4 separate regions of the Homo sapiens genome follow, and regions 2, 3 and 4 are each linked to region 1. Evidence: fine-mapped expression QTL. A gene starts in region 1. Each other region holds a variant in brackets. All regions are shown on one strand. Distances are between the middles of the regions. Region 1 holds the start of TLE3 (TLE family member 3, transcriptional corepressor). Region 2 has its middle 28 kb from the start of LINC00593. Region 3 overlaps LOC107984788 (a long non-coding RNA gene). Region 4 overlaps TLE3 (TLE family member 3, transcriptional corepressor).

Region 1 (5,000 bases):
TTCAAAACACAAATTAAAGGCACATAAAGATAGTACAGAAGTCTCCGGCCTGGAATCGGGGTTTCTCTTTCTGCCCCTCCCCTCACTCACCCTCCTCCAAGTGGCCCCGGCAATGGAAGCTGGGGAAGGGGAGGGCAAGACCAGATTATGCCCTCTCTCAGGGCCGCCCTGCGGCTGGGCGGTGGTGGGGACCTGGCGCTCATCTCCCCAGATCCACGCCGCGCCCCCGGCCGGGGTCGGCGCCCCAACCGCCCCCCAGGCCCGCGGCCGCATCTCACCATCACATAATGGCGCTGCATCTCCGTCTTCTCGTTTGCCAGCTTGTCGTACTCCACTTTGAGGCTGCGAGGGCAGGAGGAGCCGGCTCAGGCGTGGCGCCTGGACAGCCTCCTCTGAGGCCCCGACCCAAGGGCCTCTAGAGCCACTTTTCCACTTTCCTGACACCCCCCCGGGGGCGCCCCCATTATCCCACAGCCTGGGGACGCGGGGGGATTTGGGTCCCCGCCGTGGGGAGGGGGATGTGAAACAATTCGAAACTTCCCGCGAGCCAAAGGACTTATCACGGCAGCAGGGGAGTAGGACCCTGACGCTGGCTCCCGACACCCAGAACCCGGAGTGAACCCGCTCGCCGCGACCTAGACCCTCATTCGGGGACCCCACGGGCGGCGCTGGGAGCCGGGCTGCTGCGGGCAGTAAAGGGTTAAGGCGGCGCGCTCGGAAAGGGGAAACAAAAGGCGGAGGCCCGGGCTGCCCCGCCGCCCCTAGGTCGGGAGCCCCCTCCGTCCCCGCGGGGGATGGCAGGAGCCGCGCAGGGGACCCACCCCTCCCCGCCAGCCCCGGGGCGGCCCCCACCGGCCTTACCTGTGATACTGAGCTTGCAGGAACTGGAATTCGTCTTTGATCCTGTCACAAGACTCAGCCACCGTGAATTTAAATCCCGGCTGCCCGGGTTGATGGGGAGCCTGGAGCCCGCGAAGACAAGACAGGGGAGGGGGCGGGGGCATGAGACCGCGCTCAGAGCGGCCCCGGCCCCTCCCCAACGGCGCCCAACCAAAAGAGGCCACCCTCAGCCCAGAACCTTCCCAGCAAGTTTCTCAGCTCTCCGACGGGGCGGAGGGGGGGCGCCCCATCTCTCCCCGTCGGCAGCGGGGCTCCCATGCCTTTCACCAAGGGCCTCCCTCTCCCCAGTAAGGCGGGGGCGGGAGACAAGCCGGGTGAGTTGGGAGACTTCAGAGCGGGGCCGGGGACCGCGTGAACAGCTCCCCCTGGAACACAAGCAGCCCCCCGCGCCACTCGCGCGGAATTAACCTCCTCTCTCAACGGCGCCCCCCGGCCGCATCCCCCTTTGTGTGAGAGCACACACACAAACACACACACCATAAAGGTAGCAACAAGCAAAATGGAGGTGCCAGATAAACTGCCTCGTTTACCCTGCCATGATAGATGCTTAAATAAACCGAGTTGCAATTACTCACCGGATGTCTGCCCTGCGGATACATGGCAGGGAGGGGTCGTGATTCCGAGAGCGTGGAAGCGCCGAGAGCCCGGGCCGGGGAGGTGCGGGGGAGGGGGGAGCCGAGCCCGAGCGGGGGGCGGCCGGGAAACCGAGAGCTCGCCCCCGGCCCCCCCAGCTCGTTCTCGCAGCGAAATCCCAGAGTCGGGCGCCCGCCCCAAGTGGAGACAAAGAGCCGCGGAGCAGGCGGCAAAGTCGTCGGCGGGCGCCGGGGCCGGGCGGCGGGCGCGGGCTTTGTGCGCCTAGGGCTCGGCGGGCAGCGGCCGGCCGCCTTCCCTGGGCTGCGTCGAGCGCGTCAATGCCTGGGACTGCGCGGACATCGTCGGCTCCCCAGCAGGTCCGGCGCGGGGTCCCGAGGCCGGGGGCCCCTCCTGGGGCGAGCTCGGGCCCCCTCCGGGTCACTCAGCGGGTCGCGCCTGTAGGGGGGCGCGCCGGGGCAGCCCCAAGCATCCGGGGCGCGCGGGTCCGATCCTAGAGGCGTCCGGGCCTGGGGCTCGCGGCGAGAAGAGGAAGGAGGCGGGCTACGAGGTGGTGGCTTGGGGCCGCAGGAGCGCCGGAGGGTGAGGGCGGGAGCCCGGCGCGGGCGCTTCGACGCCCCCCCTCGGAGAGGAGAGCCTGCTGTTCCGTCTGCTACTGCCGCTGCCGCCGCCGCCGCCGCCGCTGCAAGCCCTTCCCAGGGCCGGGGAGGAACTCCGGGCTCAGTAGGTGCAAATCAAACGCCCTGGCATCCTAAGTCCAGCGGGCACGGGAAGCCTCCGCAAAGGGTTCTCGCTGCTCCCAGCTTGAGCACCGCGTCCCCACCGAGGAGCGCTCAGCGCCACCGCCGCTGCCGCGTCGGAGCGCACAGGCAGGAGAGCGCTGGAGGGGAGACGCAGCCCGAGACCGGGGAGCTCTACGGCTTCCTTCCTTCCCCTCGGCCCGGCTCTCCTCTCCGCGCCCCGGCAAACCCCCAAAACACACACACCCAACACACACACACGCGCGCACGCACACACACACACACCAAAAAAAAAAGTGCCCCGGACCTACGGATACCACACACAGACAGGCGAAGGGGACGAGCACGAGGTCTGAACTGCCGCGAGAGCAGTTCCAAATAGGGACTGAAAAGTAACAAAATAATGTGGCAGCTTCGTCCGGCGCTGGCCAATGGGAGCGCGGGGCCCCCACGTGGGGCTGCGGGACTCGGCCTACGACTGGGTGCCGCTGGGCGCGACGTCACAATGCCCTCTTGTGTCTAAAACTATGCATGAAAAGTAGCAATCAGGCCCTACCCGCTGGTGACTTTCGCATGGGAGTGAAAAACAGCGCTCCTCAGATCAGGAATTAACCGAAAGACATATAATAAATAGATATATATTATAGTCCTGGGCTGCTCGAGTTTTTTTCCTCCTTTTTTTTCCCACGGTCTACTAGCAAATAATTATTTAGCGGGAGGAGGAAAGAGGGAAGACAGAGGAATAACAACAAAAGAAAATAAGACAAGCTGTACAATCTTCAAAACCTGTGGCTGGTAGTAATGTATCAGTTTATTCTGCAGCGGCGGCGAACGATTCCTCCCTCTAATCTCATTAGGTCTGCAAAGCAGCCCAATTAGATACTATAAAACAAACAATCACTTTGTCACTTTAATGTTTTCACTTCAAAAGATTTAGGACTGATAAAACGGTGGCTCCTAAAGTTGCCTCCGACCTTTAAAAATTTGCTCGGAACTCAGGATGTCCCCTTTTCTTCACCCCTTCTTCTGCCCGCCTCCCCCACATTAGCCCCCAGCTCTCCTTTGTTCACTCGCCCTTCTTTTCAGAAAGCCAAATAAACAGCTCCTTTGATGTGCGGCGGCTGCCTGCGAGGAGAAGTCTGAGGGACTCTGGCTAGGCGGGCAGCGCAGATGGAAGGGCCCGGCTGCCCGTGGACAACAGGCTCAGCCACGGCTGGCCCCATTCGGGGCGCCTTCCCCGTGGGCACAACTTCACCCTCGACGCAGCCTCGCCGCGCGGGCTCCTCACTGCATCCCCAGGCTGAGGGGGTTGGGGATGGGGTCGGGACCCTGCTCGGCCGAGGCCCGGGAACTCCGAGTTCCCACCTGGTTTGCTCAGCCTGCTCCCGGCAGTGCCACGGCGTTGGCGGAAGCCTGTAGGTGTCTCGGTCGCTAGCCTGGACACTCCGAGGGACGCGGACGCTCCCCCGCTCGCTCGCCCCGGCCCCGGGCCCCCCGGACCCCCCGCTTGGTCGCACAGGCCACTCGACTCCGGGGCCAGCTTGCCCGCAAACCGATGGCCTCGCCCTCCCGCGCTCGGGGTTACGGCGGGGCAGACGAGCAAGCAGGGAGTGGACCTCAAAGCGCGCACCGCCCGGTGGACGGCCAAGGCGGGACCCCCGGGGCCCTCCCCGGCAAGTCCGCGAGCCCGCGCGCGAGCCGGCCGCGCGTCCCCGGATCTATATTTTCCCCTCATTAGGAGCCGGAGGTTCGCTTTTGCATCTTAATGAGGAGCTGAGAGCTAGCGGGCGCTCGGAGGCCGGAGCGCGGGGAGTTACACGTGAGCACCCGCCTCAGAACTGAACCTCCCCGCGCCCGCTCCGGCCGCCAGCCCCGAACCGCGCTCCCCTCTTCATTTATTTATTCTCCTAAATAAAAACATAAATCGTGTTTCGGCGCGCACCGAAGACGGGGGAGGGAGAAGCCCGGCTCGACAGATGCGAGCATCTGGCCGCAGCATTCATTAGAAACAAAATGGCTCCTCTTTGGCGCTTCCTTTCCCCCTCCCCCTTCTCTGCCCTCCCCCTTACGTCACGGGTGGGCGCACCCGCTTCTTACTCGCCCCGCCCATTTCTCGCTCCAGCCCCACGTGGGGGACGCCGACCACGCCTCCGAGCAAGGTGCGAGTCACCAATCACGGACCGCCGAAGGGGCTCTTCGTTGCTGATTGGCGGAGCTGCTGGGCCCTGTCAGTCCGCGGCCAGAGCTGTCAGTCAAAACCACGCGGGGTGGGGGAGCGCTGACAAATGCCGAGGCTTCTGAGCCTCCCGCTTGCAAATAGTGCTTGGAATGGCTGCTTAATTAGCTTTGAATGGCTTTTCCTTCCAGCTCAAACAATCTGTCACTACCATGTGGTATAAAGGAGCCATGCATAAAAAAGTAAGCAGAGGCTAAATATCAATTTGATTTTGTGTATCAAAGGAATATTTTATTTTTCTCCCTAGTAATGAAACGTATCAATTTAAATAATAAAAGGTAAAAACACACACACAAACAAAAAAAAAAAAAAAAAAAAAGAAGAAGGAAAAGAAAAGAGGAAAAAAAAGAAAGAAAAAGAAAACCCAAACTCTACGGTGTGGCGACTCCTGCGCACGCCTGAAACAGGTCACTTCCACAGCCCACGTTCTGGAGGAAGCCTGAAGACTTTCCCCTCCCCCCTTTAAACTTGCATTTAGTGTTTTGTTGTCGTCGTCCTCCAGAAGTCTAGAAGGAGTGGTGGAGGAGGGGTGG
Region 2 (8,091 bases), 290 kb before region 1:
GTCAAAGCTCAGCTGCACCGCAGCCTCCATGGCCTGGATCTTGGCGCTGTCCCCATACAATCGCTTCATCTCGGCCTGGGACGCTGCTCTCTAGGCCTCTCAGTTGGGGCCTCTACCAACCAGCGGGTGTTGCAGTACAGGTCAGGTCGTGGTCAGCCTTCACATAGCTTTCCAGGTGCTCTGCATCCAGCTGCTGTCACCACCGTCCTTCTCTGTGCCTCTACCGAGGCACTCTGCAGAGTACTGGCGGAGCTCTTTGGTGATTTCCATATTGCTCAGGTCACATTCTACCTCTGCATCTAACTTGATCTCCATCTCTTCCTCTTTGGACAAATCTTGGTCTTCTCTTGTGGATGCCTGGATTCTACTGCTGTCATGTGGCTGCTGCCCAGACCCTCTGAAATGTAAAGAACTGCACGGGGAGTCCTGCCAGGTCACATGATGGCCATAGAAGGACTAAGGATACGCAGCCTGGTTATCGTAACAGCTTTGGGGAGGAAGTGCAGGAGGGAAGTACCAAGGAAGACTGCAACAGGATTCCCCGGCCTTCCTGTAGGCATTGTGGTGGCTTTGCATCGAAGCCATTGCTTGATGATAATGTTGCCAGTATCTTGCATATATCGGATGAGAATACCAAGGCCTGGTAGCTTTCAATGTTCATGCCTTCACCGCTGCCGTCTCTGATTGTGAAAGTCCAAGTGGGTGCCGAAACTCATGGGCTCTCAGCTTGCATATCCTGAGCGGTGGCCAAGCAGGGGCCTAGTTTTCCTTCCTTAGTGAGAAGTTTTAAAGATTCCCTGGTCACTCATTGTTTTGAGCTAGATGTCTTGTGAATTAGTAGTTGGCACACACTTATTGCTTACCCCTCCCTCACATTCATTTCTTCATCGCCTAACAACAGCTCCTGATTGGACTTGGGGTCAAGCCCTCTCTTAGCCCAGGTGGCTTGGGTGGGGGTTCTTGAGGTAGAGCACATGACCCTGACCTAAGCCAATCATCACTTCTCATTTCCCAGGTCACAGCAATTAGTTCAGGGGTGGGCATGTTACCAGAGGCTAGTACAATCAGAATGAAGTCAGGACTTTTGTGGAAAGCAGGCTCAAGTCTCCCTGCTAGACTTGAACCCTCAGGCTTGTGAAATGAGCCTTGGGTGTTACCTTGAGTTTGAGAATAAAGCTGAGGACTGGAGAGAGGTCATATATTGGAGACAGCACAGAGCTCCTGATCCAGCCTTGCCTGAAGCTGGCCCTACCCTTTGATCTTTTAGTAATAGGAACTAATAAATTTTCTTTTAGGTTTAAACACATTTGGGTCAGATTATAAGTTAACTGAAGTAGAATGAGTCCTCACTGATACAAGTATGATCAGCAAAAGAAAAAGACCAAATATAATAAGGAAGACATATTCCTTGATATTTATAGTTTGGAAGGCAAAAAGGTTAAAGGGGACCATTCTCATATCCCCATGGAATCCATGGAGTCACAGTCAAGCACTCCTGGAGGGATCTGGGTGCCGGCATCTCCAGCCAGCCCTGTGATAGAGATCTGAGGAGTTCCCCTTAGAGCTTCTCAAGGAAATCCTTGATGCAATAAGCCGCACACTTAGGGAAGCTGTTCTCTCCAGACAGGGTACAACTTGAGAAATGGTTTCAAAATGTTTTGACATGTTCCTGAATGGCAGGTCTATGGGAGAACAGAACGGGGGCTGTGGTATGTTTGAGGCTTTCTGTGACCTAGGGGTAGGTGTCAGGAAAGCTTCCAAACTCTCCCTAGAGGCCAAGCCAGGGCTGCCTGAGAGGCTGGACAGTGGGCACTCAGGCCCCACTGGGCAGGGACACCAGTGTGTCATGCTTGTTGTCACACTTGGCTTATTTGCTCTTCTCCACCAGGAATTCTGTGGGGCAGGGGATTGCACACTGCACACATCACAGCTGCTCATCCAGGGTTCAGGGAGCACAGGTGTTGTGGCACTTGCTTCATCTTGAGTGGCACGGAGCACAGAGCAGCCCCTGTGGAGTGTGGAAACACCAAACCCTGAGTCACCACTGACTGTTGCCCTGGGCATAGAACCCCAGGTGAAGGCACTTAACACTGGTTATCCCTGTGCATCCAGGAAGCTGAATGGCGGCCAAAGAAAAAAGTTACAATGCAGTCAGGCTGGACCAGAGAATTCCTGCATGTGCAAGTTTGTGCGTGTGTATGTTTTGGAAGTCAAGCCAGATGTCGTCTTTCCTCATGTGACATTTGGTATCTTTTTTCCACAGCAGTGTTCCATTATGTTCTAGTTCTTGAAAGAGGCAGTGAGGCAACAAGTGTACGACGAAATTGATTTGGGAAATGATTTATGTGTATTATAGTCTTCTCTTAGAGGATCACAAAGTATATTAGCATATTAAAGGCTCTGAGAAGTCCTGTAATAAAGGAGCCTGGTTGATTGAATGATTGTGGAACTCATTGTGGGTGGATCATTCGCATACTGGATGGAATGGGGTGCCAGGCTGACTGTGCAGAGGGTGATTAGTCCCTGAAATGTAGATAGGGGCCACCTAGAGAATGGTGGAGCGTCGGACATGGATGGGTGAACTGACCAACTGGGCTATGCATTTCAGCCCCAAAGCACTTAAAGCATAAGGTAGATTGTAAGATCCTGGAGTTCACCTGCCTTAAACACCTCCTTTCATAGGAGAAGGACACCAAGGTCGTTAGAGAAGAACTGAGTTACTCATGATCACCAGTCAGAGCTCTTGGCTGCACCACATAGATGCCGATGTTGGATACCTAGGGAGAATGAGATTTGATGGAAGGATATGGAGAAGGCCACTGAACCCACTGGAAGACTGGAGAACCAGGTCCAGAAAACAAGCAGAAGCCAAGGGAAAGTGGGCTGCTGAGAGCATAGCCAGATCATGCCACGAAATCTGATTAGCCCACTTCAGCTACGGCCCATGATGCATCAGAAATGGACCCATGGCTCTCTGTGTTCTTCCCAGTGGGTACAGGTGATTGGCTGAGCACAGACTGCGTTCCCCTCCCTGGCTGTTAGGGTCTGGGAGAACAGGTGGGAGGCTTTTGTGGCTTCTGCAGCAGAAGCCCGGAGCCCATCTCTCCCAACGACTCACACAGGAAGGAAGCCCCCATCTGGTTGGGGGCAGAATGAGGTTACAAAGCCCATCTCCTGTCTTGCAGTTCAGATTATGCAGCCAAGGGTACTCTTTTACATAAGTGTTTAAAATCTTGATTTAATCAGCAACATAGACCTTGCAGCGTTCCTGCTTCCATGATAGAAGGATATGAACTATTTGAAACATTCGCAACTACTGCTCTCCTTGGGGATTCCTACCCTCCTTCCATTCTTTACTCACTGGCCTCATGGTAGAGTAACTAGAGCAGAAATGCAGAGCGAGAGAGAAACAAATATGCAGCTTTCGAAACCCATGGCAGAGACAATAGTTTGAGAGTCTCAAAATCTTGCCTTTCGAGAATCCGAGTCCTGACACACAGAAATCAGGAGGACTAGTGTATGGTTTGTTAAGCTACTTTTTCCCACCTACCCAGTCTACATTAATGACTCCCTGAGCAAAGAAAAAAAAAAGTCCTTAGAAGGAAAGAGAATTAAATGCTGGCATGAATCTCTGGGAATGGTCCTGCCTACACGTTCCACGCTCTCAAACTCTGAAGTTGAGGGGACGATAGAATCTCCAATAATTTAGGGGATCAGAGAGAAGAGAGACAGGTGCCCCCACTCCGTGGGGAGGCAGGAAGCTCCATAGAGAAGTCCCAGCATTCAGTGTCGTGAAGGACCAATAGATAGGCAGGAAGCAACCTCCGGGGGGTTCAGGACGCATCACAAGCCCTCATCCCCCCGGTGTTGTGTAGCGAACAACAGAATGTTTCTGAGTGTATCTGATGGTCCTGAGAGCCAGAAAACCTGGAGGGCCTTGAGCCTGGGATGGTAGGATGTAAGAGCAGGTGCAGGTGTGGACCAAGGGCAGGAATGAGGATTCCCCACCAGTCCACAAGGGGTGGCCGCCACCAAGGACCAGCTGGGCAATGGCCAGTCCAGTGGCGCCCAGGGTGGACAGCTGACGGCAGAGAGCCAGGCCTGCTTCCCCAGATGCACTGATGTGATGTTTTCCCCACCTCAACTGAATCCATCCTCTGGGAGAAGGTGAGAAGGGGAAAGCCTTGAATTGACTTGAATGGCGGTCCTGCTAAAAGTGGAATAGCGGATCAAAGGAGAAATTAGATTTTTCTTTTTAAAAAAAAAAAAAAAATCTGAATGTGTGGCCTGTGACATTCATTCTGATATAATGTAAACTGTAGTTTATGCATAGAGTTAAAACTAGTCCACAATATTTTCTTTAGAAAGGTTGCAAGCACCTGTCTCCTAGAATTATTATCAAACACCATTTGACTTTGATTTTCCTTACCCACATCCCAGGTCAAAGTTAAAATGATTGGCAGCATGTTGGCAGTGACTTCCCGTAAAATAGGGCTGGCACTGCTGGTTGCCTTTGGGCCCAAGCCCAGCAGCCACTGAGTGCCCAGGAGCAGCCCCTGTTCCTCCTGAGGCTAGGCCTCCTGGGTTGCACCCTCGATGAGTCA[C/T]GCTTGTTCCTGGCTTGGTGATCGTAAACACTGGAGGAGATGATGCAGATGACAGTCTTTTGAAAATCTTAAATTTCTGCCTGTGTCTGTGGGACTTCGGTCAAGCCTCCCCTTGGGGCTCAGTTTCCTCATCTGTAAAATGAGGTCACCTTTGCTGCCCTACTGACAGTGGTGGCAGCTTTCATGCATCCAGTGTCTACCACATTTGAGCACTTTCCACTTCCAATCAGATCTTACTTCGTCTCCATGACAGCCCTGCTGGGGAGGTGCAGTCAGCCTCGGTTTACAGATGTGGAAACAGCTTCAAAAGAAGAAACCTGCCAAAGCTCAGACACATAATTAATTCATCAACTCTAAGACTCAGTAGATTGTAAGACACACAATTATTTTACAAACAACAAAAATAGGAAAAAGGGGCCAGGCGCGGTGGCTCACGCCTGTAATCCCAGCACTTTGGGAGGCCAAGGCGGGTGGATCACGAGGTCAGGAGATTGAGACCATCCTGGCTAACACGGTGAAACCCCATCTCTACTAAAAATGCAAAAAATTAGCCGGGTGTGGAGGCAGGCGCCTGTAGTCCCAGCTACTCAGGAGGCTGAGCTAGGAGAATGGTGTGAATCTGGGAGACGGAGCTTGCAGTGAGCTGAGATCGCGGCACTGCGCTCCAGCCTGGGCAACAGACAGAGACGCCATCTCAAAAAAAAAAAAAAAAGAAAAAAGAAAAAGAACTGCCAATTATAACAGCAAGGTGTCACTGATTGCAAGACACATTCCGATTTCAGAGCCGTTAAAATGCATACAAAGGTGGGGCTTAGAATTTTTGGACTACTGAGTGGAACTGATGGTGAAGGTGGGTGTGATTCCAGGGCTGAGGGATTCCAAAGTTTGAGTTCTTTGTGTTGGGTCAAGTGGCCACCCAGAGAGCTGATGCATGCTGATGTGAGACTCCTACAAGCCATGAGACAAAACAGACTTATAAACATGTAACGTGTTGTGTTGACACAAGGAACCAAGCAGTGATGAGGAATGTGCCAATGGCTGAGATGGAGCAACCCACTTGCTGAGTCTTGCAAAAGCAACCTCCCTAGATGAACTTTCAGTGGATTCTGGGTGGAATTCTGTCACAGCACAGAAAACGGACTTCTTGCCATGGCGCTTTATGCAATCCCATCTTAGGAGCCAACTTGTCAAAGAATTGCTTGGCTTAACTCAGATCCAATTCACCTACAGAGAATCAACTCCAAAACAAGCATCCCAGGTTTGTTGCAGAGCTGATGAGCCTTCCGGTTGGTGAGAAGGGCCAGGAAAAAAATCCAAGAGACAACCTGGGATCCCCAATGGTTCTGCCTTGCCCAAGTCTGATGCTGCTGGAGGCTCCTGTGCCTGTCCCTTATCTGTCCCCTCTCTTTGGGTGGAGCAGGACCTGGCTTCCCTGGGGCTACTGTCTTGAATAGAGCATAACAAGCACGCACAGACCCTGTCCTGGAACCTGCCATTGCTGTGAGATTCCCCTCCCCAAATCAGATCTGCCCTCAGATGGAGCCTGAGTAGACACAGTCATTTAGACCTTTAGTTCCTCCTCACCAGGTGCCCACAACTGGTTTACCACCTCTGAGTCTGGCTGATCCTTTCCTGGCTCCCTCATCTCCTCTACCAACCTCTCAGATGCTACCATCTGATGTAAGTTTCCATTACTGTTGCTGGCTGGGGCACACTAAGCATCACCAGCTCTAGCATCTTAGGAACTTTATTTCATCAGGGCTTCCCAACACTCTCTGAAGCAGGTGTTACTTTTATTTTTATTTATTTATTTTTTTTGAGACAGAGTCTTGCACTGTCGTCCAGGCTGGAGTGCAGTGGTACGATCCTGGCTCACCGCAACCTCCACCTCCCAGGTTCAAGCGATTCTCCTGTCTCAGCCTCCTGAGTAGATGGGATTACAGGGGCCCACCACCACACCCAGCTAATTTTTTGTATTTTTAGTAGAGTCGGCATTTCACTATGTTGGCCAGGCCGGTATCGAATGCCTGACCTCATGATTCACCCACCTCGGACTCCCAAAGTGCTGGGATTACAGGCCAGCTGAAGGGTGAGCCACCGCACCCAGCTGAAGCAGGTATTACTATCCTCATTTTAAAGGTAGAAAACCTGAGGTTCAGAGAGGCCAATCACATGTTCAAACGACACAGCCAGCAAGTGAGAGAGCCTTCACTAAGTCGTTATAGAGTGCTTAGAACAGTGGCTGGAACAGCATGAACACTCAGTAAATACTTGTTAGATGACAGAAGGAAAAACTGCCTTATGGTGATAGTGCTGAGAATTTCATCACGAACTAGTTATTATTTAATTTTATTCAACCGAGCACCTGCTTTTGAGCCCAGGGTAGACCTACAAAGGATATAGGTTCTAGGCAACCCAGGTTGTAACACACACACACACACACACACACACACACACACACACACACACACACCCCTCCTTTAATGACCCGCCTGCAATTGATATACTGCTAAGTAGCATTTCTTGTACTGGGGAGATTCTATTTCCACACCAGCAGCAAATATGACCTTTGTGTCAGCTGCCAGCTGCTTATAATTCTGACAGATGCAAGCACATTTCTGGGAAGCTGTAGCCACTCAGGACCTTGCAGATCAACAGGCAACACTGGCGGCTTTGGTAAGATTGATCGGCCGGTGAGAATCCCATTTACAGCCCTAACGGAGCCTTGGTTTACCACGGCCTGGGCACTAATGACTTAGACAGCTCTGATCTAAATCTGTCAGCCAGGGCTGGTGGCGATATTAAAGAACACTCTATTTATATGAAGCAGCAATTAGAGGAATGCTCGCCAATGGGCCACCTCTTCCAAGTAAATCCCCAGCCTTCCAAATGGTGTCATGCTCACGGTTATTTTAATCCGCTTGGAATTTCAGGGATATTAATGTGACGGGCCATCGCAGAGGATTAGCCAGGTTTATTTCTGCTGACATTTCAGAGAGCACACTCAGGTTCCCAAGCCATGCCCCCACGCCTCCCTGGCGCATCACTGGGGGAGGCAATTGAGGGAGGGAGAAGCAGCTGCAATGAGGGTGAACCTGTCTCCCTTCAGCCCTGCCTCCCATCTCACCCTTCCTTCCCCTGCCTCCTCTGCCTTTCCTCCCCACTTCCCTCCAGGCCCCTTCAGTCTCTTCTCCCTCCCTGTTCTAACTTTTTCTTCTTGTTCTCTCCAGGAAACAAGCTCTTGTATGGGGTTGCCAGATAAAATACAGGATGCCAGCTTAAATGTGAATTTCAGATAAACAAGGAAGAATTCTTTTTTTTAGTGTAAGTACCATGCATTTATGTTGGGACATACTTAGACACTAAAAAGTTCCTTTGTTGTTTACCTGAAATTCACATTTAATTGAGCATCTTCTATTTTTATTTGCTAAATCTGGCAACCCTACATAGGAAGAGTGAGTATAAAGTAGAGAGGCCACTGCTGGAT
Region 3 (8,091 bases), 340 kb before region 1:
CAGCTGCCAACATGCCTAGCTAATTTTTGTATTTTCAGTAGAGATGGGGTTTCACCATGTTGGTCAGGCTGGTCTCGAACTCCTGACCTCAGGTGATCTGCCTGCCTTGGCCTCCCAAAGTGCTGAGATTACAGACATGAGCCACTGTTCCCGGTCTAATTCTAGCACTTTCTAACTCTTAGACCTTGGCTTACATAATTAATGTTTCTAAAAGCTGTGATTTTTTTCATTTGCATAATGGAAATTGAAATAGCTCATTGTGATGGTTCTTCATTCAACATGTTTTTAAAGTCCCTACGAGGTGCTCAAGCACTCTGCTGCTGTGATACTGTGGGTACATGACTGGGAAAGCCAGAGGCCATCTGATACAGCCACAGGAATGAAGCTTTGCTGGTTGATAGATGGGATAATGCAGGGGTTGGCAAACTTTTTCTGTAAAGCGCCAGATAGTAAATATTTTAGGCTTTATTCTGCCATAGTAGTGCAAAAGCAGCCATAAACAATATATAAACAAATGGGTGTGGCTCTGTGCCAATAAAACTTCACAAAAAACAAGCAGCAGGCTTTGGCTTGTAGGAAGTAGTTTGCCTACTGCTGGGCTAAAGGTTAATGTTTGTGGATTGAGGGTCAGTTCCAGATCACTCCAAGAAGGTGGCTTCAGATGATGAACATGTGGACTTAGGCTGGCATGCTGGGAGTTCTTCAGGAGGGCCTCCAAATGCATCATTCCTCTTGCTTATGCAGAGCTGGACGGGTTAGATCTCAAGCTGGCTTAATTAACTTTCCAGGCCTTCTTCCTTAATGGCAAAGTACAAATTCAGTAGCATTCAGTGGCCCCTTATAACAGACACAGTAAGTATGACAAAGATACAACCCAGCCTACACTACTGGGATGACAGGGAAAAGTCATCCCAGCAGGGTTTAACTAGTGGTTTCCCAAACTTGAACACTCATTGAATCACTCAGGATGCTTGTTAAAAATACAGATTCCTGGACCCCTACTTTAGAATGATTATTTCAAGCTATAGAGATGACCTGGGGATTCTGGACCATTAGCATGTGGACCAGATGATTTTAAAGGAGGGAAACTCAGAGTTAGGCCCCTTTTAGCTGTGACATACAGTGGTTATCAAAAGAGTAAAGGAAGCCTGTCTGCCCTTGCTGGGCTGTGGTGGGACAGAGAATGGTGGTGGTGGGGATCGTTATCTTGTCTGCAAAGACGTGGCAGGATGTGGTTGACCTGAACTTCCTGTGAATCAAGGAACCAGAGAACAGGGGGGAGAGATTCACAGCCCGGCAGTAGGCTCAGCCCACATGCCTAGAGTGTGCTCAGTGGGTACTGGGAAATGAGAGCCTGGCCCCACCTCTTCTCCGTGACCTTGGGCAGGTCACTTCACCTCTCAGAGTGTCAGTTTCCTCATGGATACAAAGGAGATGATGATAGGTCATTTTCAAGGACACCATGAAGAATAAATAAGGTATCATTTATAAAACCTCTGTCTCCTTGATTAGTGGTAGAAAATTCTCTTTCAGTGGAATCAGTGTCCACCTCAAAACATCCAAGGGCCAAGAGTTAGGAGACCTCCTTCATGGGCGGGGTTTTACCAATGACTCAATGCTCCATCTTGGAGTAAGTGAGATCATGTTGCTGGGCCTCACTTCACTTGACTGTAGAATGGGACGTTATGCACCTGCGGTTCCCTGTTTCCTTTTCAAGGATTCTCTTGAAGGTTGGATGAGACTATGGAATGAGAAGTGTCCTGGTGCTGTCAAGGGATATGGCAAAAAAAATGTGCAAGACCATTCTTGTCAGGTGCGGGGAGAGATGTTGCTGACTTTAATAATGTACTTCTTTCCATTTGTTATTTTTACAACAAAGGAAGAAATAAAACAGGACCTCTGAAAGATTCCTTGTCATATATAGCTTTCTCCTATTGAGTTATTTTCATCTGAGTTTATCAATCAATTGAGAAACAGTCACTGGATATCAACGGTGTACCCAGCCCTGTGCTATGTGTAAGATAAGGAGGTTCAGAGGTATGCCGCTAGGTCCCTAACCATGAGAGACCCACAGTCCAGCTTAGGAGATAACAAATATGTGTTATCCAGGTATGTTAACACATGGGAAGTGAAATAGAAGTGCAGTGATGATGCTGATGATGCTGACAGTAATGATGGAAAGGATGAAGATGATGTTAATTATTCTTCATATACACCACAATTGTACAGTTTACAAAGCATGTTTAGGACGATTATCTTATCTGATATTCAAGTCTAGAAAAACCCTGATTTTACTGATGAACAAACTGAGGGTAATAACTTCTCAGAGATCAGATAGGAAGAAAGTAGCTTAGTTGGACTCCAGCTTCTTTCTTTTGGCCCCAAGAGTGCCATTATCCTCAAGACATCATAACTTTCTTCCTTTAAATTGCAACAGAACATTGCAAAATGCACATTATCGTCAGATAGTAACATGAGTAAATTAGCACATGGGAAGTGAATGTTACAAGATCTCAAAGAGCAGGCAGGTCAGGAGACTGTTGACTGCAGTGAACAGAAGAGGCTCAGTGGAGAAAGCTGTAACTGAGTTTAGCCTTGGAAGGCTGCATGGTATTTTTGAGAGGTGGAGATGGGGAGAGGGGTGACATTCTTGGCAACTGGAAATGTATAGGTAAGAAAGGAAGTGAGAAAGTTCAGGGTGTGGCAGGAAATAGCCAGACCCCAGTCTGACCACAGTGGGTTCCATATAGTGGATCTGCTGGGGAAGAGTTGGGGATGTTCTCTTCCAAAGGGCTGGAGTGGTACTCTTTACTTTAGCGTAGGTGGGATATGGCCACCATTTTCTCTTTGATATCCTTATCCCCCTCAATCCCGAGTCCATCCATAATCAAATGAAGCAGTAATCAAATCAAATAACAGTCTGTAGTCCTAGCCCAAAGACAGAGTCTGCCACTTCCGACTTTTTTCTTTAAAAAAAAAAAAAAATGTCAGAATGCTGCTGAAACAGGAACAGCATTGAGGCAACAGCAGCTCTGACTCACAAACAGCACATCAAAGCAGCAACGATAAGAAACTGGCAGTAATTGTGCGTGTGAGCAGTGTTTTCCTGATGCTCTTTGAGGCTTGGGGGCCCCTCTGGGCAGCCTGATTGTGGAAAGAAGCATGTGGTTTTCAAAAATTGGGTGACTCACCACACAGGCAGTGTTCAGAAACAAAAACAAAGTCCTGTCTGCTTTGGTTCTCAGAGCCCAGGGCTTTGGGTCACTGCACATTTCAGGACATCAGTGAGCTGAGATTCATCTATTCATTCATCCAACCATCCATACATTTGACCATCCATTTATGCATCCATCCATCCATCCATCCATCCATCCATCCATCCATCCATGCATCTGTCCGTCCACCCACCCATCCAGGCATGCATGCATGCAGGCATCCATCCATCCATCCATCCATCCATCCATCCATCCATCCATCCATCCGTCCGTCCATTCATCCATTCATCCTTCTATCTATGTATGCATCTTTCCATTCATCCATGCATCTATCCACCCATCCGTCCAACCATTCATCTATTTGTTCCACAGATACTATGAGCACATATTTGGTATAGGCCCTGTGCTAGGCACAGAAGATGTAGTGGTGACCAAGATAGACTCTGAACTCAGTCCCTACCTTCATGGGTCTTATAGTCTATTGACAGAGAGAAGTATTGACCAAATAATTACATTGGCAATTAAATCACTACTGTGAAAAGCGCTGTGAAGGGAAATACTGAGGTGTGTAATAGGAG[A/G]AAGTGACCTAGTCTGGGAAGATGGTCAATGAAAGCAGGAACTTACGCTAAAAGATAGATAAGATTGATAACTCTACAATCAGCCTTTCAGCACCACCTCCTCCACCATTAGGGATAATAAAGAGGTAAAATTCAACATTTTTCAATCTCTCTGTCTTCATACAAACACCATGAGGAGTTAATGACACAATCATGCTTTTTTTGAGTCTCAGAGACCTGGGTTCAAATCCCATATTCTGAACTTACTACTGCTGTGACTTTGAATAAATTACTTAACCTTTCTGATTCTCAGTGTCTTCCACCATAAAGTGAGGATAATTATAATGGCCTTCAAAAGATAGTTTAGAATATAGGTTGAAATAATTTCTGTCAACTTCCTAGCCTATAGTAGATCCTTAATAACTGTGGCCAGGTTCTTAATCTGCTGTCACTGGTACGCAATTGTATGCATATCTCATGTGAGTTTGTTCTCCAGGGATGATCAGAGCACCATGCCTATTGTCTGAAGTGGCCGGCTGAGTTCTAGAACATAGCCATCTTTAATGCGAGTCTGAATTAGATGATCTCTAAAGTTCCTTACTATCCCAGCTTCTAGAATCCCAAAAATTCTTCATGAAAAAAAGCAAAACCATAGGCCAGGAGTAAGATGCCATGGAATCTCTTTTGCCCCTCTGAGCCTCAGTTTCCCTGTATCTCCAATGGTAGAGTTGGAACTAAGAGTATTTGTGGTCTGACAGTCTGGGATTTTGTGATCTGCAGGAGGCAAGAGGTCCTCGGCAGAGCTGGTGCCTGATCAAATCACGACATCCATAGAGTTTTACTTCTGCCCCTGTCCTTCCCCTGCTCTTTCTGCCAGCTGGCTCCAGGTGCCAGGGCTCTCACCTGCCCAGGTTCCTTCAGACAGAGCATGAAACAGCATCAACCAACAGCTTAGTTTATTCACACTGTGATCCATGAGCCTTAATATGTTTTCCCCCTTCAGAAAAATATACCTTTGGAAAGATGAACCTGGAGAGGATAATGCTTGACTCTCCTAGGTCTATCAATAATGGAGGAACTCCAGGCCTTGTAGGAGAAATGTACGGCTTCATCTCATTTCACACTCAAGGGGGAGCTCTTTATTCTGTGTATGGTCAGGATGTCCTTGCTGGGGATGGGAGCAGATCGGGAGGGAGGGGCTTGAGGTTGGAGCGGACAGGTGTTGAAGGATATCCTTCCTTGTGAAGCTCTTTTGGATGAGAGAGAGAGCAGTGCTGGTTGAGGTTCATGTCTCTCTGTTTCATGGTCTGGCTCCCAGGGACCAGCCAGTGTGGACCAGGACCCGGGGCATCTTGTCCTACATTTCCTCTCAGCCTGAGCCCTCCACAAGAGTTCTCTGGACAAGCCTTGCTTATGAGTGCCCCTGAGAGCTTCCTTTGGTGTGGCCAATGTCCCTTCTACAACCTTATTAGAGCGATGCATGGAGCAGAGTTAAATAAACAGAAATCTCTTAAGCATTTGACTACAGACTCAACTTCCCTTGTCAAATAGCCTGGGCTTTATCATTTTGGTTATTTTGGGAGTGAGGTGGGGTGGGTAGTCTTTCTTGTTTTTAGGAAATGGTATATAGAAGGCATATACAGAAGTGGTATGCAAATTCCACATCCCCTGCCCATGCAGAGGTTAGAAATTGAGCCCATCACTACTAATATTAATTTCCTATAGCCCCAGGCTTATGAGAGATTTTTTAGGAAAATGAGAAGAGAAGCCATGGACCACAATCCCGAGGAGATACATCAGGGAGTTGGAAGAACACATTAGTTGTCCCTAAGTTTGATGGGGCCCAGCCGGGCTGTCCATTCTGCTGAAGTGGCATGGCTTTTCCTGATTTCTCTCACCTGATAATTAGTTGTGACTGGTTAAGCAGCTGGTTAGGACAACTTCAGCCTTTAGCTCTTTGAGATATCCAAGGATAATATTATTTCTAATGTTCTCCTTCTTCCTACTGGCATTAGGTGATAGTGAGGTAACTTGGTTATCTGTTGCTAGTTAGGAATCAGAGCAAGAATTTAGGAAGGAAGTATATGTGCCTTCAAAGCAGCATCAGCATCTTTTGTAGATCTTCCCAACTTGAAATCTAATAAGCTCCAAATCTCGAACTGTTTCCCATTTATAATTTTTTTTTCTCAATAGCTGGCTTTGGAGGCTGGAGTCAGGCTGGGGTTAGCTACGGAGCAGTTGGAGAGAGAAGGCTCTGAAGCAAACTAGAGGGGAAAACATGCCAGGTGGTCAGTACCAGAGTGAGGAGGGAGAGCTGCCAAGACCTGGGAGATGGCTCCAGCAGGCAGTGAGCTGAGGCAGAGCTGGAGGCAGATTGGGCACAGCCCAGAGTGTCTGAGGGGGCACCAGTACCAGGGAAGGGGATTTTTGGGCTCCGGACTCTGCCCAGCCCTCCTGCCCATATTCTTCCCTGGTGCCCCTGGGGCTTCTCCCACTTTCATTCCATTGCTGCTTGTAAGAAGACAGATGTTGATGATCTTCATGTCTCTGGGGCTGTCAGTTCCCCTGGCCTAAGCCAGCTGTTCCATTGCAGAGCCGAGGCCCCAAAGGGTCTTTTACCCGCCATTCTCGCTGATTTGTTTAAAGTGTCCTTCTTATTAATTTTTAAAACTGTTGTAAAAGTTTTGAGGCCTGGCATGGTGACTCATGCCTGTAATCCCAGCACTTTGCAAGGCCAAGGTGGGAAGATCGCTTGAAGCCAGGAGTTCGAGACCAGCTCCACCATGAGTCAGAGACCAGCCTGGCCAGGAGTCAGAGACATAGAGAGACCCCCGTCTCTACAAAAAAATGTAAGAACTTAACCAGGCGTGGTGGTGCACACCTGTAGTCCCAGCTACTTGGGAGGCTGAGGCGGAAGGATCAGTTGAACCCAGGAGTTTGAGGTTGTAGTGAGCTATGATTGCACCGCTGCACTCCAGCCTGGGTGACAAAGCAAGACTCTATCTCTCAATAAATAAACAAATAAAAGAAAAAATAAAACGAAAGTTTTAATTTATTTTTTGAGTCACATGTGTTGAACTTATTTATTCAGTGAAATTTAACCTTTCAGAGTGTACAATGCATTCAGTTTTGACAATGTGTAGTATCCTATAACCACTTATAACAGAGAACATTTACAGGATCCCCCAAAGTTCTCTCCTGTCCCTTTAGAGCCAGCCCCCTCCCCAGCTCTCTAGTTCCTGCCACCACTAATGTGATCGTTGTCACTATCATTTTGCCTTACCTAGAATATCTTGTAAATGAAATCATTCAGTATGCAGCCTTTGAGTCTGGCTTCTTTCACTTAGCATAATGCTTTTGAGGCTCATCCATGTTGCCTGGGAAAGAATAAGACATCCAGTCAATCCCACTTCAAAATCATGAAATGGCAGAGTGGTGGTGCCCTGAATTAAAGGATGCTGGTCAAATAACACCTACCTGCTATAAGAACATTCTAGACTACAATGCTATGAATGATAGAATAAAGGGTTGTTTCCAGTTTTCAAGTGTAGGGTTGGGTATGATTAACTTCTTTGTTAATCCCTTAAGATTTAGGGATAACTTCATAGAAATAGGTCTTCCCTCAATCTAATTTTTAGTCTTTTGGTTTTGTTATTTATTTATTTAGAGACAGGGTCTCACTTTGTCTCCAGGCTGGAATGTAGTGGCACAATCTCCACTCACTGCAGCCTTGAACTCCATGGCCCAAGGGATCCTCCCATCTCAGCGTCCCCAAGTAGCTGGGACTATAGGCATGCACCACCATGCCTGGCTAATTTTCGTATTTTTTGTAGAGAGGGGGATTTCACCATGTTACCCAGGTTGATCTTGAACTCCTGAGTTCAAGCAATCCTCTCAGCTTGACCTCCCAAAGTGCTGGGATTACAGGCATGACCCACCGTGCCCGGCCCTGGTTTTGTTTTAATTCAACAAGTAATACAAATTTATTTAGAATAATTAGAAAGGGAAAAATCACCAATAACTCCATTATCCCAAGATATCACCACTATTGACATTTTTGAGTTCTAGGTTTTTCTTTTTCTGTTTGTATACATGTGTTTGTATGTTTTATATACATATATATGTGTGTGTGTTTATATACGTATTTCTTTCAGCTTTTTTACTGTGGTAATATACACATAACATTCTGACCATTGTTAAGCGTACCATTCAGTGGTATTAAATACATTGATGCTGTTGTGCAGCCATCACCATCATCTATCTCCAGAACTCTTTTCATCTTGCAAAACTGAAACTCTGTATCCATTAAACATTACCTC
Region 4 (8,091 bases), 49 kb before region 1:
GCAAGAACTGGGATGTAAGAAGGCTGGATGGAGCTGGAGGGAGGAGCAAGAACTAGATGGGTTAGGTAGGGATGCATTGTTGGGACCATGCTCTCTTTTACCCCAGGCCTTAGCACATGCTGTTCCTTCCACCTGGAACACTTTTCTTCATACCTTTCATTGGCATGCCCATGGTATTCTTCACTTCTGTTTAGCTCTTGGTCCTTCCAGGACCCTCTTGCTCTGCCCTTCCATACTCAAGTCAATGCCTCAGCTATGTGTGGTGACATCTGGTTTGCACTTTCACATATCTCATGGAGTGGGAATTGTCAGTTTCTGTTTTCTCCCAGTTGGCTGAGAGCTCTAAGGGCAGGCACTGCATCTTACTATCTTTGCATCTTAGCATCGAGAACCATGCCAGGCACATATTAGATTCTTACTATATAAATGTTGGTAGGATGGACGGGTGAATAGGATGGCTAGATAGATGGATGGAAGAGTGAATGAAGGGGTATACGGATAAATGTGTGGGTGGGTAATGGATGGGTGGATAGATGGATAGAAGGATGGGCAAGATGGGTGGGTGGGTGAGTTCTAGGAAGTTCTTGAGGCAGGAGGCTGGTTTCCATGACTGTTCTGGGCCATCTCCTTTCCATGAGTAATTTCCTTACCAGTACTGTTGGTAGAGGAGCAGGAAGACTCATTCCCTGGATATTAATCCTCCAAGCAACATCAAGTCCTGTAGGCTGGGCAGTTCCCTCCTAGCTTTCCATCCTGAGTGTGCTAAGGGTTTAGGGGAGGGGGATGTTTCATCATAATGTTGGCTTGGACTCTGTGAGTCATGTTAAGTCACTTGCCCTCCCTGGGCCTTAATTGCCCCATCTATAAAATTGGGCTTAGTATAGATGTCTCTTCAAATATAAAAGGTCCAACTTTGGTATAATGTTTAAAAATGCTCCATTAATCATACAATTTTTTTAAAAGTTCAGATTTGTTTGCTTTATATTAAAAATGATGCTCATTTGTAAACACTGAATAAGTTATTGGGAAAAAAAATTACACTTGCATCATTATGGGCCATTTGATGGCCAGTACCTAACATTTAGCAGTCTTGCTAAGGATCCTTCTGGCTCCAGCGTCCAGATCTCTGTCTCCATACCTTCTCAGAGACCCTACAAGTTAGACAATTACTGCCCATGCTGGGGTTGGGGCCACCTGGGGGCTGCGACTCAGAGGGAAGCTAGAAAGGGTGGCTTTGTCAGCTATTGCCAAAGATGACCCAAATATTTGTTCTTTTTTTTTTGTTTTTTTTTTTTTGAGACGGTCTCGCTCTGTCGCCTAGACTGGAGTACAATGGCATGATCTGGGCTCACTGCAACATCCATCTCCCGGGTTCAAGCAATTCTCCTGCCTCAACCTCCCAAGTAGCTGGGATTACAGGCGCCCACCACCAAGCCCAGCTAATTCTCTTATTTTTAGTAGAGATGGGGTTTCACCACGTTGGCCAGGCTGGTCTCAAACTCCTGACCTCAGGTGATCTGCCCACCTTGGCCTCCCAAAGTGCTGGGATTACAGGAATGAGCCACCATGCCCAGCCCATTTGTTTATAATTTGATGGCAACTAAAACATTAAACCTGGCCTCTGACAACTGTGGCCCTCCATTTTTTAAAAAACAGATCTTGCTTTGAGCAAAAACAGCACAATAGAATTGAAAACACTCCAGACATCATTTCACTTCTCTGGGCTCGGGTTACTGAGTATCGGATGCCCTGGGTATCACGCCAGACACTGTGAATTAGGATAATCTCAAACTGGTGAAAGCTCATCATTCACTAGCACTGCCCTGGGCTGATGAGGTCCTGCGCACTGCCCTCCAGGGAAACTAGTCTAGGTGGGAAGAGACAAGCAAATAGGTGCAGGAACATGTTGTAAACGCTATGGTTGCTACAAGCCTGGATTTCTGCATAAGAGGAAAGGAACACTTGGAGGGTGATAAAGGCCAGAAAAATGGCATCAAAGCCTCCTGTCACCCTGTTAAGTAAAAAGGGGGCAACATGGGGGGATTAAGGATGGGAATAGGTTTACCATGGAGTGGGCCCCTCCTTTCAGACTGGAATGCTTCACAAATACTGATGTGCACAGGAATCGCGGCAGCATGTTAAAATGCAGATTCTGCTTGGGTAGGACTGAGGGGCTCATTCTAGATTTCTAACACGCTCCCAGATGTGGTTCGTGCCGCCAGCCAGGGTTGGGTGGAAAGCAGTGGAGTGGTGGATGGGGAGACGCAGCAGGAGGAAGGAGGAAGCACGTGCAGAGAGGCTCAGTGCAGGGGAGGCCCAGTGTGCCGGCATTAAGGACAGCAGCAGTGGGAACACAGGTCAAATGAAGTAAGGGGCTGTATCATCTCCCCGACCTTGAACTGTGAGCTTCTGTGGCAGGGACTGACTCTTGGTCATCTCTCCATCCTTGAGTGTGCCCAGGAAATCTCAGTGAACAGACTTGCAGAGGTTCAGTCTCTCCTCAAAGAGTAACATTGGCCTTGCTTTCCAATAGGACAAGCCTGGGGGGGTGAGTATTCCCTGATGGACATTTTCCTCTTCTGCCAAACTGGGGCCTGCAAGCCCCAATTCCACCCTGATCTTGGCTCCCATGGGTAACCTCATGCTCTGGACAAACACACAATCTTATTCTGGCCAGAGCCTGCTCCCAGCCCCCTAGCCCTCTGTTGCAATGCCCAGAGATGGACACACGAGAAAGGTATGGTCCAAGGAGAGCTGTTTGACTCACACCCCTGCAACCATTTGAGGCAGAGCTGTAGCCCACTGCAGCCTGTCTGGTCCCTTCTACCTGCTGGCATTGTCTCCTCCATAAGCCTGAGAGGACCTCCCTCTCCAGCTAAATGACCCCTCTGTGTGGAGAGAGGCCAGTTGTCCCTTCTAGTCATAAAGACTGTGCTTTATGCTGAGACTGTCGTTCCTCTTTTTTTTTTTAAATGTGAGATTCCCTTTCTTGTATGAAATGACAGCAGGCAATTGTTTGTGCTGAGAATGACTTTGACAAAATAAGGAGTTGGAAACCATGTTAATCTCCAGTGCCCTGAGAGCTTTTGCTAATGGGTGCATGAAATCCAAGAGCCTGGGGACCGCCCCGGGAATGGGCACCAGCATTCTCCTCTTCCCGCCCAGCCCCCCGACTCCCTCCCTGGGGACAATGACCTGCATTTCTGGGTCTGCCTCTTCTGCAAATGCTTCCTTCTGTATCATCCAAAAACACACCTTTGTGACCTAGAGATTGAAGATCTCCTCGTCCCACCTAAACGTGTTAAGCTTAAAATAAAATTGTGCAGGTTTCCAAGGTCCAGATGTTCACAGACACTTTGCAGTTTCGCTTCAAGTTCATTACGTTTAATTTTTTTCCAAAAAAGTTTTGCATTGACAGCTGTACAATACTTTGGTGTTAACCTGTGGTCTTCCTTCACCTCAGTGAACTCTGCCCTGCCCATCTGTCCAGAGGAAGTCTTAGCTCCTACCCCCCACCCTCCCTGGCGCTTGGATGGGAGGCGACACAGTATGGGATTGTGAAATCCCTGCTGCGATGCTGGGTATCTGGAAGGGGAGAAGGGGGTGGAAGCAGCGCAGGGAATGCTGTGAGATGAGAAGAGCTCACATCGATGGGAAATGGCCCTGGCCCAGGCTCCAGAATGTGACAGCAACAGTGGCCTGGCTGTTTTCCCGGGGGGCGGGGGGCGGGACTGGCAAACTGGGGGGAGAGGCAATTAAGACGCAACAATCAAACCAACCTTTAAATAGTAACTTTTAAAAATATAAAAACAGTTCAGTACAATGACTTTTCATTCTTTTTTTCTTCGGGAATAACTTTCTTCTACCCTCACCCTCCCTTCTGGCTAGAGCCTTAACAAGAGGTGGCAGATGGACATCTGAGACCCAGAGAGACTCTGGACGCCCCACGCGCCCAGCCTTGGAGAGGCACAGGGTGTGTCGCCAGCCTCCACATCCCATGCCCGGTGCGCTCAGCTGGGGAGCAACCTCACTGAAGGTGGGTGGCTTTCCCTGGAGCCCCTCCCACCTCCTCAGCAGACGGAATCACACATTACAAAATAATCCATAAAAATGCAGTATAAAAATTATCTTCGATATGCTACATCCATGGAGAGCCTGCCACCAGGACTCACAGCGGCCTTTAGCTTTTCTTTAAAAGGAGAAAAAAAAAAAGACCAAAAGGAAAAAAAAAACAAACAAAAAA[A/T]ACCCAACCCAAATCCTAACACCTCAGAACATGTTGGTACCAAAAGGTGGCACCTGCCAGAGGCGATAGTCTACCTAACCTGTTTGGGCCACAAGAGACTGCAATCTGCAAGAAATATCCACAGTGTGCCAGGATCTGTGTCCCCCTCTCCCACCCCCCAACCCCCACTGCTCTGCCCAGGGTGGGGGTGAGGGGGATCCTCTTTTCAGACTCACAACCCTGTAGGTTTATACACTTTCCCCCCTCTAAGGGGAGAGGAAGAGACTGTAGGCGGGAAGGGGGAGAAGGCATTTTATAAAAGGACATCACTTCTAATTCTTTTTATTCAAATTAAAAAAAAAAAAAAAGCACCCACATCAGTTGCTATTTTTCTCTGGTAGCTCCCTGAGCTGAGTTGCTATGCTGTCTTCTAACTTTTTGTCCTTTTTAGGCTGTGTCCCAAGATTCAGAAGAGCTGGAGAGGGAGTTCCTTTGAACTTCCATTGCTCACAACAATAACTAAGTGTGCACCAAAGAGAAAGACCAGGCTGAGGAGGAGAGAGGGAGAGACCAAGAAAGAGAGACACAGAGAGGGCAAGAGGCAGCCAGAGTGCAAGAGACCACAGAAAGCTCCATTTCTGCGGGTGTCCGCCTGGACGGGCCCCCATCTCAGTGCCTTCCATCCCTCAGTCTGGCCGGCTGGTTATCAGTCCGGATGCCCAGACCCGTGTGGAGGCACACGCATTCCAGCAGGCACCTTACGGCCAACCTGGTTGCCTTTTCCACACTCTAAGACTTTTCTCCTCTTTCTTCAATTGGTTCCCCTCCCTGTCTCCTCTTCCCAGGTGAGAGCATCTGTTTATTTAAAAAAAAAAAAAAAAAAAAGCCACCACCACGAGTGGATTACAAATACAGCAGGCGAAATACACACTCAGAGTTTCCGGTGGGAAGGGGCCTCCTCTCCCACTGATCAGTCCGCAATAGGAGTCTGTTATTTACATTTTTCACAAATCTTGTGCACTGCACAATCGGCAAAGAGAGACCCCCCCATCCCCCAGCACAACATTGTGGTCCACTCCAGCACCCCCGACCCAAGGTGAGGGACAGGGCAAAAGAAAAGGGAAGAACAAACAGAGACTCATGAGCGGGTCTGTGGGGGAACCGGAGCCATAAGCCTCCAATAAATCTATTTGTAGCAACTGCCAGCATTGTTCAGGGGGAGGAGGAGGAGCAGAACCCTTCCGAGTCTGTGAGACACATCAATCCAGGCCCAGGAGTCCAGACTGTGACGGGGCACGTGCCCTCTCAGCCGGCCGGAGCGCAGCCCTGAACGCTCGGCTGCCTGCGGCCCATCCTCCGCCATCCTCGGGGCCCCTCGCCTGGGGGTCTCCCTGTCAGAGCCGAGTCGGTTTCTCCCAGAGTTTGACAGCCCTGCTGGAGTTCTTGTTTAGTAGATGACCTCATAAACTGTGGCCTTCTTGTCACCAGAGCCTGTTACAATGTATTTGTCATCCGCTGAAATGTCACAACTCAAGACAGACGAGGATTCTTTAGACTGGAGGAGGAAGACGAGGAGAAGCAGCAGGAAGGCGTGGGGTGCAGGGAGAAAAAAGACAGGAATTCATTTTCCAGTGCTCAACACCATCTCGGTTCTCTCGGCAACAATTGCCCTCCTCTGCCCCTCTCTGATGCTCCGACCTGGAGCACAGTGCGGTGAAGAGGAGGTGGGGGAGGCTTTAAAGCACCCATGAAGCATTTTCAGGTAGAGCTCCCCTCCCACCTGCTTTTCCATAAGGAAAAGCTCAGTAACAGTCTCCCACGTGATCTTTACAGTAAGTCATAATGATCAGAACAGGACGCTTTAGCAAGAGCTTCTCCTCCGAGTTTACAAATAGGAAGAAGCATTTCCAAGCTAGGAGCTGGCGTCAGCAGCTCAGGCCCACAGCCTGATGAGTTAGGAAAAGGATTGCCACCTGATGTTTGAAGCATGTGCTGTAACTAGAGACCCTAACAATGAGGTTTGACACGCTGCACACCAGACATTTCAGCCTGGGTCCAGAAAGCGGCATGTTGGCTGAGGGAGTGAGAGAGAATGCAAGTGTGTGTGTGGAAGCGCAAGAGAGAGAGAGGAAGAAAGTGTGTGGGGGAGACCAAGTGTGCGTGAGTAAATGAGTGTGAGTTTGATCGTGTATGGGAAAGAGTGCACGTGTGTGTGTGCACACGTGTGTGTGCCAATCAGTGCAGTATGGCAGGCCCCAGATCCTGGTAGATTATAAAAAGCCTCTTCCTTTCCTCCTCTCTTTCCTGTCCATGTCCCTGCTGGTGCTGAATGCAGGTGGAAACACTCACTCACTTGAGGAGGCAACACTGCTCTGGGCAAGGCTGCCGGGTGCCCAGGTGCCCAGCGCACCTCCCGCAGGTGCTCAGCATCCAGCCCAGAGCAAAAACACTTATGCTATTCCTCACTCTCCAAATCCGACAAGCGCCCCGGCTTAGAAGCCCTTGCCCTCGGGGGTCAGAAGCCATCAGTAGCAGATTGTGTGTCCTGCTGAAGTCCCCAGGTCCTTGGGAGAACCCAATCTTGCTCCCCTATCAGGTAGGGGTGGGGAGGGGACCAGGGCAGGTCTGATCCTGGCTCCAGGCTCCTCCTGTTCTTCCTGCTGCTATCCTCACTCCCATCACCATCACCAAGTTTCAACTCTGGGTAGAACCCAGAGGAGGACTCAGACGGTGGGCAGTACCTGGAATATGCTGGCTCCATAAGGCGTCCTCCAGGCGTTGAGAAGGTTATCTTTCCCAGTGCTCACGAACCACTTGCCTGCAGGTGGGAGGCAAAGGCATGATCAGGTTGTAGCTCACTGCCCTCTAAAGCAAGACCTGCCCTAGACATGGCCAGCTGCCATAGAAAAGCAGTGAGAACTGCTAACTAGTATAACTCTCCAATTTCGAGAGGCATTTTGCAAATGGGACATGCGGACACCTGGAGAAGGCCTTTCTCTGAAATCCAGGGGGAGGGCTGGGCGGGGCTAGGATGGGAAAAGGTAGGATTTGAAGTTCATTGCAGTGATAACGCTGCCTCAAAAGATTCTTGTTAAAGCCACTAAGGTTGACTGGCCTTTCTAAATTCTACTACTGGAAGGCAACAGGAAATACTGAAAATATCCAAGCCCTGGGAGTCTGGAGACCTGGCTGAAGACAGCAGTCAGTGGGCGACCTTCCTCCAAGCAGGAACTCGGCCAGGGCTCTACAAGTGTTAAAGCCCTTATGCTCCCTGAAAGCCATGAGCACCATGCTATTCCCGACCAGAGAGAAAAATCCACTAGAGTTCAGAGAGGGTGAGATGTTCAAGACTGCACAGCTTGTCAGTGGAGGAGCAGACATTCCCATCCAAGGCTCTCAGATGCCAAAGCAAGTGGTTGTAACCATGGAGAGGAACTGCCTGCACTGCTACTGTCCTGTTCCTTTGCCCCAAGCCTGCAAGAACTGGCTCTGGCCTAGTGTCCTGAGAGTTCAATAACTCATGGTGACATCTGCATCCGAGAAACAAGGATGTGGAACAAGATCACTTAAGGGTGTTGAAGGGGCACCAGCTCAGGGGTCAGGAGGCCTGGTTCCAGGGCCTAGCTTATTCTATAAGCTTTGGGCCCCTCTTCTGTCCTGTTGGGCCAGGCTGCCCTGGGTTCCCCACCCCACTCCATCAGGCCTGGGCCCATCCAAGGCTCACCGCAGTAGGCGAACTTGAGGGAGAGCACGCAGCTCTCGTGCAGGTGCAGCTGGTACTTGTCAGGCTTGGTGTGGTGCAGCACCTCCACGTTGCTGCTCTCCATGCCCACAGCCAGCCACTCCCCAGTGGGGCAGTAGCCCAGCGA

Evidence for each region. PIP is the estimated chance that this variant, and not a neighbour inherited with it, causes the effect.
Region 2: its variant is fine-mapped to the expression of TLE3 in whole blood (TOPMed, PIP above 0.99).
Region 3: its variant is fine-mapped to the expression of TLE3 in whole blood (TOPMed, PIP above 0.99).
Region 4: its variant is fine-mapped to the expression of TLE3 in whole blood (TOPMed, PIP 0.99).

What each region holds. Positions count from the first base shown.
Region 1 is chr15:70,095,300-70,100,299 of GRCh38, forward strand. TLE3 (TLE family member 3, transcriptional corepressor) reads right to left here and starts at 2,618. Exons shown (of 20, transcript NM_001105192.3): 1 at 1,476-2,618; 2 at 862-962; 3 at 279-342. The coding sequence starts at 1,499. RefSeq lists silencers at 607-1,036, 1,757-1,876, 1,887-2,056, 3,646-3,725, 3,796-3,945 and enhancers at 2,876-3,850, 3,938-4,975.
Region 2 is chr15:69,803,372-69,811,462 of GRCh38, forward strand. It overlaps the pseudogene GEMIN8P1. Among named protein-coding and RNA genes, the nearest start is that of LINC00593, 28 kb to the right of the region's middle. RefSeq lists a silencer at 1,611-1,807. The variant C/T (reference allele first, on the strand shown) is at 4,605.
Region 3 is chr15:69,757,971-69,766,061 of GRCh38, forward strand. The region is part of intron 2 of LOC107984788 (a long non-coding RNA gene); the gene reads left to right. Among named protein-coding and RNA genes, the nearest start is that of LINC00593, 73 kb to the right of the region's middle. RefSeq lists an enhancer at 2,963-3,032. The variant A/G (reference allele first, on the strand shown) is at 3,794.
Region 4 is chr15:70,044,428-70,052,518 of GRCh38, forward strand. It overlaps TLE3 (TLE family member 3, transcriptional corepressor), which reads right to left. Exons shown (of 20, transcript NM_001105192.3): 18 at 7,947-8,091; 19 at 6,964-7,040; 20 at 3,363-5,777. The coding sequence ends at 5,670. Among named protein-coding and RNA genes, the nearest start is that of MIR629, 31 kb to the right of the region's middle. The variant A/T (reference allele first, on the strand shown) is at 4,244.